2 linked regions of the Homo sapiens genome follow. The protein of the gene in region 2 purifies or fractionates together with the protein of the main gene of each other region. This does not show direct contact. Each region holds a gene or a part of one and is shown on either strand. Other genes may lie near its edges.

Region 1 (4,440 bases), on a different chromosome or scaffold from region 2:
TCAGGTGTTTTATATGCGCTCAAACGAACCCAGGGAATTCGAGATCCATCTATAAGACAAAATATTGTCAGCAACCCTGGATTTGCTGCAGTTTGCGCTAGGAAACCATGACAGTTCTGAATTGTCTGCTTCCTTAAACTTTTTCAAGAGGTGAGTTTGGTTGTTTGATATCCTAAGGTTGTCATATGAACCCTTGATAAAGGAAATTAGGGGTGTACTCGACTCCATTCTTCGGTCTGCACTCCTGTGTAGCGAGTAGCAAGTATGCTAGAACACCTGAAACACATTTGCATGCTCCCTCCTCCCCTCAAAAAAAAAAAAAAAAAAAAAACCGTATTCAAACAGAAAAGAGGGATTGGGGCTTCCTCCTTTATGTATCTTCAGGCTTCATGCTGTTATTTGGTGACCTCCTTTTTGATTAGCACTTGTTAAGTTTCCTCTTATCCAATTACATTAGATTGTAAAAATGTTGCGGAGAGCACCCATGCCACCATATGTGTGGGCTTATCTACTCAAGGAATACCAGATCAATAAGAGAGCCAAATGGGAAAATTTTGTGTGAATTTTCAGATGTGTGGTACAGTGCGAGATCTGTGGGACTATGTGTTCCAAAACTCACTTAGTTTCTCTGGTGTCTTCAGACCAAGAATAGCCTAGGGTTATTTGACAGAGTAGGGAAGATCTATAGGGTATGGTTAAGTGCTTGAGCTTAGAGGCTGGGTGAAAAAGTTAGTTACCTGGGTTTGAATCTTCACCTAATTTCCAACTTTTGTTAATGTCTTTGGGCCTTCATATTCTCATATATAAAATGGGGATAGTAAAAATACCTATCTCACGGGTTGTTATGAGGTTTAAATAAGCCTCCCTCCCTACTCTGCCCCTCCTCATCTCTGCCTGCTCTTTCTCACTCCCCAGGATCTGGGTCATACACCGACCATCTCTTAGGAAGGAGTAAAGTAGGAGATAAAAACTAATCTTCATCTGATGTTCTTGTCCAATGTATACTGGAGTTTCCAGGTGTACAAAGCTGATTAAAATCTGAAGACCTATATTCTTCTTTAAACGTTGTTAATTAATCTTCATATGGCGTTAGCCAGCTCACTTATCTTGAAGCTTACCTTCCGCATCTTTTAAATGGGAATGATGCTTTTCCACTATCCATTGTATACAGGTTGTTCCCTCTGCTTGGGATTGTCTTTCTTCTTTACTCCACCCCATCTTTATGTCAGGAAGCTCCTACTCATCCCTCAAAAGCCTGCTCTATGTGATCTCCTTCCCAAAACCTTCTGAGACACTTCCAGTGCCATCTCTGGCCAGCATCTCTGCTGCTGGGGAACACAATTCCTTGCTCATTTCCTTATTATAGCACATTTCATAGAAATCATTTGTTCACTTCTCCTGTTAGATTGTGAGCTCTTTCAAGATAGAATTGATTCTTGTTCATTTTTAAAAAATCATCCCAGTGTCAGCACAATGCCTAGAACAGAATAGGCCTTTAGAATATGCCCTACCTCACAATGTTATCCTGTGGATAATTACTAGATATGAAAGTATTTTATAAATTATATACCTAAAAAAACTAGAAGGTGTTAGTATTAAGAGAAAACTGTATGAGTCTGCATCAGGAAGTTCATCCCTTTCAAAATCACAGTGCCCACTAAGCTTAGGTTTGAATTGATGCCAAAGTTGCCTTGTTAGGAAAAAGATTAAATTTTTCTTAATGCTCTGATTACTTATTATTAGGGCATTTGAATATTGTTACTAATTGGTCCTGGAGCTTGGAAAAGAAAATCTCATATTCATACTTTACACATTAAGTGTTTTAATTTGACATGACAGGTTTGAATAAAACCGTCTATTTAATTCTGTGAAGTATAAATCAAAACATTTTATTGACTATCCAGTAAAGTTGAGTGGAAGAGATTAAAAAGGGTGTATTCATGCTAAGAGTTCATTTTTATCAGATATTTGAAATGAGATGATGAGTTATTTAGGATGGAGGAAGAATCCATCTTTCAGATGGATAGAAACTGGGGAGAAAAGGGTTCTTTGTAAAAGTTCACAGAGCAGTCTGCTAATCATTTGCTCTGTGGAAGACGGGAGGTAAACCTCAGTGAGTTCATAGAGTTGTTTTTTTAAAACTTAGAACTCTTTGAATAGATCCTTAAGTGACTAATATAGCCAGAATAAAACCATCATTTTATCCTTTAATCATAGCTGCTAATCCTATTTCCTTGTTAATGTGCTTTATGAAATTATTTGACAATAATATCAGATTACATGTTTTTGCTACTAATAAAGTTCTATTCTCTTTTGAGAACTGCAAACAAAATGTTGTATAGTCATATATTCATGTAAGTTAAGCTTTTTATGTGTATTAAGACATTTTTATGGCATCTCTTTAGGTTTGTATGTAATTTTAGTTATCAAAAACCCCTATCTAAAGTGATAAACATTAAAAGTTTGTATCAGTACACATACAGAGAACCATAAATGACAAATTTGTTTTCCTGTCATTAATGACAATGACTTTGGGCAAATTCTTTAACCTTGCTGAGCCCGTATTTCCTTACTTGTAAAATTAGAGGTTTGGATATGGTCTTTAACATCCCTTCTACCATTTTGATTATTGCTTTTTAACTTGAACCATTTGCTTTAAGGCAGTACATCAGATGCTTTATTTTAGTGTTTAAATGTATTTAGTACACTTGTTTTGCATGATTCACTGTTTTAAAAATATTTAAGATTTATTAGATAAGAGCGTTTGAATTCTAAATTTTTTTTCTGTGACTGTTAATTAATTCAGCAGCACGTAATACATATCGAAGGGTCTGTTAAGAGACGCTAACCCACTGGACTGAAATGGGCCTAAGCTGTGAATCGGATGAAAGATCCTATTTTATCCTAAAGTCTATACTAAGCAATAGCTGTTTTTAGACATCTGTATTCTTAGACAATTATAGAAATTTAAAGCTGGAAGGTAGAGAACATGAAGGTAGAGAAAATAAAGGTTCTTACCCTTCATTTTACAAATGAAGAATCTAACAGAGACAGCAAGTGTCACACAGTTGATGGCCTGTTCGGCACTAGTCCACTATTATCAAAGTTCTTTCTAGAATGCTATATGAGATTAACTTATTACTATGAATGTTGCAAATGTACTACATTTAATACACAGAGATTATACTACTTATCTGTTTATATATTGAGAGGTGGTAAGATTTTCACTGTGCCGTCTACACACTCTTAACTGTTCCTTCTTAAGAACTTTGTGAAGTGGTTAGGATTAGTGATGAAACTATGGTTATGACCTAGGTGGAGATTGAACCTGGATGTTTAGTTACTTGTGCCATGGTCTACCTCAGCTATTTTCAGTTCTGACTGTCTGTCACCATCACCTGTGAACTAAAAAAATTATGATGCCCAGACTGTACCCCAGACCTACTAAGTCAGAATTTCTGGTTTCAAAAGTTCCATAGGGGGTGATGTTGGGCAGCTAGGATAGTGAATTTCTGCTTTTGTCACAAATAGATTAGCCACATACCCTACCTAAATGATGGCAACCTGCTGTGCTATCATTTAAAAGGTATCAGTAGAAAGGTTGGTATAGTTACAGTGAGATTTTAGTTTGTTTGCATATATATTTGATATATTAATTCTATTTGATTAGATAATATGAACACTTGGTACAAAATTCAAGAGGTACAAAACAGTATATACATTGAAAAGTATTCCTTCCTTTCATTATCTTCTAGCCATTCCCTCCCAAGAAGCAAGCATTACCAATTTGTTATATCCTTTTTGTTGTGTGTTCTTCCAGAAATTAAGCATTTACAAACATAAATTTATGTGCACTAATATATTCCTTCCACCAACATACAAATTATAGCAAAATATATACATTTTTCTGTATCTTGCTTTTTTACACTTAACAACATAGCTTGAAGATTTTTTCACATTCACATAAAGAGAGATCTGCCTTATTTTTTAAACAACTGCATAATATTTCATCATTTGGCTGTACCACAGTTTATTTAGCCAGTCCCCTATTAGTTGACACTTAGGTTGTAAACAGTCATTGCTATTACAGACATTACTACAATGAATAACCTTGTAAGCATGTCATTTTTAATATGAGTGTCTTTTTGTAGGATACATTTCTAGATAGATGTTAAATTGATGAATTGAAGGATATGTGCATTTTTATTTTGGAAAGACAATGCTAAACTATAGCAATTTAAGCTCTCACCAGCAATGTATGACTGCCTATTTCTTTATACCCACGTAGGGTGTATTTTAAAACTTCTTAATCTTTACTGGTCTATGAAATAAAAAGGAACATTTAATTTGTAGTTTTAATTTGCACTTTTAAATGAGAGTGAGGATTGCTCTGTCACCAGGGCACGATCTTGGCTCACTGCAACCTCCGCCTCCCGGGTT
Region 2 (5,553 bases):
ACAGCTGCTGTGGAAATCAGTTTGGTGGTTCCTCAATAAGTTAAACAGAATTACCACACGAGCCAGCAGTTTGACTGCTAGAAATAGACCCAAAAGAACTGAAAAGAGATATTCAAAGAAAAACCTGTAGAGAGATGGTCATGGCAGTGCCACTCACAATAGCCAGAAGGGGGAAATAACCTGTCCATCAACTGACGAGTGGGTAAACAAAATGTGGCCTCCTATTCATACAACAGAATCGTACTCAGTCATTCAAAGGAAGGAAGTAGTGATTCATGCCTCTACATGGATGCACCCTGATGAAACCATTACGCTAAGTGAAAGCAGCCAGACACACACGGCCTCACATTTGGTCGTATAATTCCATCTATAGGAAATCTCCAGAACAGGCTAACCTCTATGGACAGAAAGCAGATGGACTAGGGGTTGCCAGGGACTATCGGGAACGTGTGTATGGGCGGGGGCAGGGGGTGTGTGTGGGAGGGTGTGGGGGCTGGTAGTGGTGGTGTGGAAGGAGGCGTGCGGCAAGTGACTGCTTATAGGTACAGGGGTTTCGGTTTCTTTTCGGGGTGTTGAAAACGTTTTGGAACTAGGTGGTCGTGATGGATGTGCAACATTGTGAAGGCGTGGTACCCGTCCTCCCCTCGCCCACCCCTTTGTCTTTCCCACGGTGTTCCCATCCAGTAGAAAGGGAAAGTTCCCACTGGCAAAGAGAGGGTCACCAGCGCGATTCCCCCTGCCCCGCCCCACCCCACCCCCACGGCCCTCCAGCCACTTCTAGGCCCAGGCCTGCTCCCTCGAGGCCAATGGGAAAGTGATGAGGTCACCTGACGGACGTGTGTCCCTTGTGAGGGGCCGTCACCACATGCGTGCCCGTCGCCGGATGTGCGTGCCCATTGGTCTCGGCTCCCTAGCCAATGAGGGGCTGGGCCCTGGTCGCTAGGATACACAGTACTGGACGCGGTAACTGTCCTCTTGAGAGCCATCTTGCCTAGCTGGGCCAAGCCGAGATAGCACACTCAACGCCCAGCATGCCGAGGAGGAGGAGACGCCGAGGGTCCTCCGGTGCTGGCGGCCGGGGGCGGACCTGCTCTCGCACCGTCCGAGCGGAGCTTTCGTTTTCAGTGAGCCAGGTGGAGCGCAGTCTACGGGAGGGCCACTACGCTCAGCGCCTGAGTCGCACGGCGCCGGTCTACCTCGCTGCGGTTATTGAGTACCTGACGGCCAAGGTCCCGGAGCTGGCGGGCAACGAGGCCCAGAACAGCGGAGAGCGGAACATCACTCCCCTGCTGCTGGACATGGTGGTTCACAACGACAGGCTACTGAGCACCCTTTTCAACACGACCACCATCTCTCAAGTGGCCCCTGGCGAGGACTAGCTTCTGACACCCGGCCCCTGGGACCTGACAGGTCCACTCGTCCACCCACCCGGCCCCAAATCCCCCGGCCTGAACCCCCGGCCTTAAACACCCTCCCCCCACAACCCAGGCCCCAAAGTCTTGGGCCTTCATTAATTCTGTCAATAAAATGTTTCAAGGAAGCCATCTGCCCGCTTCAGTCACTTTGCCTTGGGGTGGGGGTGGGGGGGCGGTGAGATGGGTTGGGGGGTTGTGAGACCTCCACAGCTGGAGGGATGGAGAGGTGGTGGGGGTCTGGGGTTGGGTGGGAGCCAGGGATGGCACAGAGGAGCAGTCTCTCCGGGTGACAGTGCAGGGGAGTGGCCCTGGGTGGGAAGGGGACACCCCCGCTGGTTCTGAGCAAGTCAGGGCCTGCCCGGGAAAGTCCTCAGCATGATGGTGTTCGTTGGGGCGGGTGGGCCTCAAGACCATGACTGCAGTGTTGCGACAGGACGGACTTCTAAGGCAACCGGGGTGGGGACGGAGAGGTGGACCCGGTGCTTGGCAAGGGGCCCTGGACCGGAAGACGGAGGACTGAGTAGTCGGGGCGGGGGGGGGGGGGGACAACAGTCTAGAAATGCGCAGACATGGAATTAGGGTCACGAGTTTCGTTTGGGTCATGTTCAGATGGAGAGGCTGTGGGATGCCTTTAGCAACCTAGACCACTTGCATTGCAGCCGAGCTAGCAGCAGCTGGTGCCCCGCCAGGCCCCGCGTACCTTCCCAGGGTCTTGGATCCGCATCCCCGAGACCCTCGATTTGCATACGCCGCTCACAGCCCGGCCAGGCCCCGCCTCCGATCCCGCTCTTTGCACCTCATCAGGGCAAGGGGCAGGCTCGGGCTGGGGAGCCGGCGCGGGCACGGCGGCAGCCCGCCGAGGGGGACGCAGGGCACGTCGCCCCGCCCCGGCCCGCCCGCCAGCTGCGGCGGCGCGTCGGGAAGTGCTTGGGGCGGCGAGCATGGCGGCAGCGGCTGCAGGCCTGGGCGGCGGCGGCGCCGGCCCGGGACCCGAGGCCGGGGACTTCCTGGCCCGCTACCGGCTGGTATCGAACAAGCTGAAGAAGCGGTTCCTGCGGAAGCCGAACGTGGCGGAGGCCGGCGAGCAGTTCGGACAGCTGGGCCGGGAGCTGCGCGCCCAGGAGTGTCTGCCCTACGCGGCCTGGTGCCAGCTGGCGGTGGCGCGCTGCCAGCAGGCGCTCTTCCACGGGCCCGGGGAGGCGCTGGCCCTCACCGAGGCCGCCCGCCTCTTCCTGCGGCAGGAGCGCGACGCGCGCCAGCGCCTGGTCTGCCCCGCCGCCTACGGGGAGCCGCTGCAGGCCGCCGCCAGCGCCCTGGGCGCCGCGGTGCGTCTGCACCTCGAGCTGGGCCAGCCGGCCGCCGCCGCCGCCCTCTGCCTCGAGCTGGCCGCCGCCCTGCGCGACCTGGGCCAGCCGGCCGCCGCCGCCGGTCACTTCCAGCGCGCCGCCCAGCTCCAGCTGCCCCAGCTGCCCCTGGCCGCGCTGCAGGCGCTTGGCGAGGCCGCCTCCTGCCAGCTGCTGGCGCGCGACTACACCGGCGCCCTGGCGGTCTTCACGCGCATGCAGCGCCTGGCGCGGGAGCACGGCAGCCACCCGGTGCAGTCACTGCCGCCGCCCCCGCCGCCGGCACCCCAGCCCGGGCCCGGGGCGACGCCCGCCCTACCGGCCGCGCTGCTTCCTCCGAACTCCGGCTCGGCGGCGCCCTCTCCCGCCGCCCTGGGCGCCTTCTCGGACGTGCTGGTCCGCTGCGAGGTGTCCCGCGTGCTGCTGCTGCTCCTCCTGCAACCACCGCCCGCCAAGCTGCTGCCGGAGCACGCCCAGACCCTGGAGAAGTACTCCTGGGAGGCTTTTGACAGCCACGGGCAGGAGAGCAGCGGCCAGCTTCCCGAGGAGCTCTTTCTGCTGCTCCAGTCTTTGGTCATGGCTACCCACGAAAAGGACACGGAAGCCATCAAGTCGCTGCAGGTGGAGATGTGGCCACTGTTGACTGCTGAGCAGAACCACCTCCTTCACCTCGTTCTGCAAGAAACCATCTCCCCCTCAGGACAGGGAGTCTGATCCATCCCATTCACCCAGTGACTTCTTTTTGCCCAGGCCTGGACTTTTTGCATCAGTCACGTTAACCAGATGACTTTGCCTGTTACCAAACCTCATGCATCCACGTTTGCGTCTGGGGAGGAATAAAAAGACATCGTTCCCGCTTCTGCGTTTTGTTATTCCTACTGCCGCCATAGGAATTATTTCGTTGGCTGAACGTTACCAGCACCCCGAGAACACATTTTGATAGAATCAGAGTAGAGGACATGGCTGTCTTCTAAAAAGCCACGACATGAAAATGACAATCCCTTTCGTCTCCTTCCTCCGCTGCTTCCACCTAACGCAGCCTCCTGCCTCCGCCTTTGTTTCATAGTGAGGATTTTATTTTGCACGGCGCCCTCCCTCTAAATACCTACCCTAGATGATTTCATCCTGCCCCTCACTTCTTAACATATTCCTGTGTCTTTGTAATGGCCAAATTTCTCCTTCCACTCGTCCGCACGGTACGTCTTCATGGGAGTCATTTTATTCCTTACAGCTTCCTTGTAACCACAGCCCTAAATCCATGATAAAGCTACTCTTGTACTCCTCATGTGTGGTTTTGGTGTCCGTCGTCTATAAAATGTGACTCTCTTACCTACTTGTCAGGAGGCCAGCAGCAGAACCAGATAGCTGTTTGGGCTCCAGGATGTATTCGTTCCTTTGAAATTTGCGCTATGCCTCCTATGTGGGCAACGAACCTGCAGAGATCATCTATGATGTGCTCCGTACTCGGGTGACTGCAATGCAGATACATCCAGTGCAGCGGGTCTGGTGCCGATGCATCGATTTGCATTGGAATTCACGGTTCTGGTTCCATTCGCAGAGGTATATGCAGTCTGGATCACAACAGCTTTTATTTGTAATAGGGATTTTTTTTTTTTTTTTTTTTTTTTTTCCCCCCGAGATGGAGTCTCACTCTGTCGCCCAGGCAGGAGCGCAGTGGCGTGATCTCGGCTCACTGCAACCTCCGCCTCCTGGGTTCAAGCGATTCTCCTACCTCAACCTCCAGGGTGCCTGGGATTACAGGCGTGCACCACCACGCTGGGCTAATTTTTGTATTTTTAATAGAGATGGGGTCTCACCATGTTGGCCAAGCTGGTCTCCAACTCCTGACCTCAAATGATCCACCCTCCTCGGCCTCCCAAAGTGCTGGGATTACAGGCATGAGCCACCACGCCTGGCCTGTAATAGGGATTTTGCTGCAACTTTTAGTTAAGTAGGTGAAATCAGAGTGCGTGGCCCTTTGGTGTTGTGCGATCACGTGACTGCAAGGCAGCCTCCGTGTTCCCCCAAAGCAGGATGGCGTTCCGTTTGAGAACACTTAAGTTTCCAAGGCTTTCTGGCTCAAATGGAGCATGCCCCCCAACTACGCTGTTTTCTTATTTATTGCGTCTTTTTAATCCTTTTGATGGTGACAACAAGAACTCTTCAGAATATAGCCTCTTTCTCAAACTTTCAACCCTGGGGAAATGCATCCTTTGGGCCGAAGTTGCACACAATCCTGATCTTCGGGGCTGAGATGTAAGGACACAGTTTGGAGTAGGTGTTTTTGTTTTGCGTCTTTTTGCAGGGGAGAGGTGTGGAGGGTTGTCACTGTGAGTTGAGTGCCTCCAAATGGGTGGGACTTGTAGGGTGTTCTTTTCTGCTTCTATTTCTATTTCGACAGTGTGGAAGTAATGGGAAGCACAGGAGAGGCCCATTCCACCATCATTCCTCTTTCTCTCACTTGGCTGCCAGGAAGGGTCCTACGGAGCCCTGAACGCCTAGCCCAAATTATTGTAAAAGCGGTTGAAGGGCTCATGCTCCTTTGCTCTTTGGCTCTTTCCTGGTATGCTCCTCTTAACCCGGGCTGCAGACCTGGCCGGCTGGCTTCTTGTCAGGTTCAGGAGTTACGGAGCATGACTGGTGACCAGTTTGGGATTTGGGCTTCAGGAGAAGCCTCCTTAGGCCTCTGGTCCAAACTCCTTGCGTCAGGGAGGTGAGGGGAAGGATAACCAGACGGTCAGGTAGTGGGTATCTGAGCATAATTCTAGGAAACACTAAAACTCCTCGTTTTCCAT

Evidence for each region.
Region 1: the proteins of F8A1 (region 2) and RASA2 purify together in Homo sapiens (affinity purification with mass spectrometry, with the first as the bait; one large-scale study listed by BioGRID). This does not show direct contact.

What each region holds. Positions count from the first base shown.
Region 1 is NC_000003.12:141,490,027-141,494,466, forward strand, and holds part of RASA2 (ras GTPase-activating protein 2), read left to right. Parts: intron 1-4,440. UniProt on the Homo sapiens protein: Inhibitory regulator of the Ras-cyclic AMP pathway. Binds inositol tetrakisphosphate (IP4).
Region 2 is NC_000023.11:154,884,019-154,889,571, forward strand, and holds F8A1 (40-kDa huntingtin-associated protein), read left to right. Parts: upstream 1-2,336; 5' UTR 2,337-2,356; coding exon 2,357-3,472; 3' UTR 3,473-4,043; downstream 4,044-5,553. Other genes in the region: H2AB1 (histone H2A-Bbd type 1), read left to right, coding at 1,032-1,379.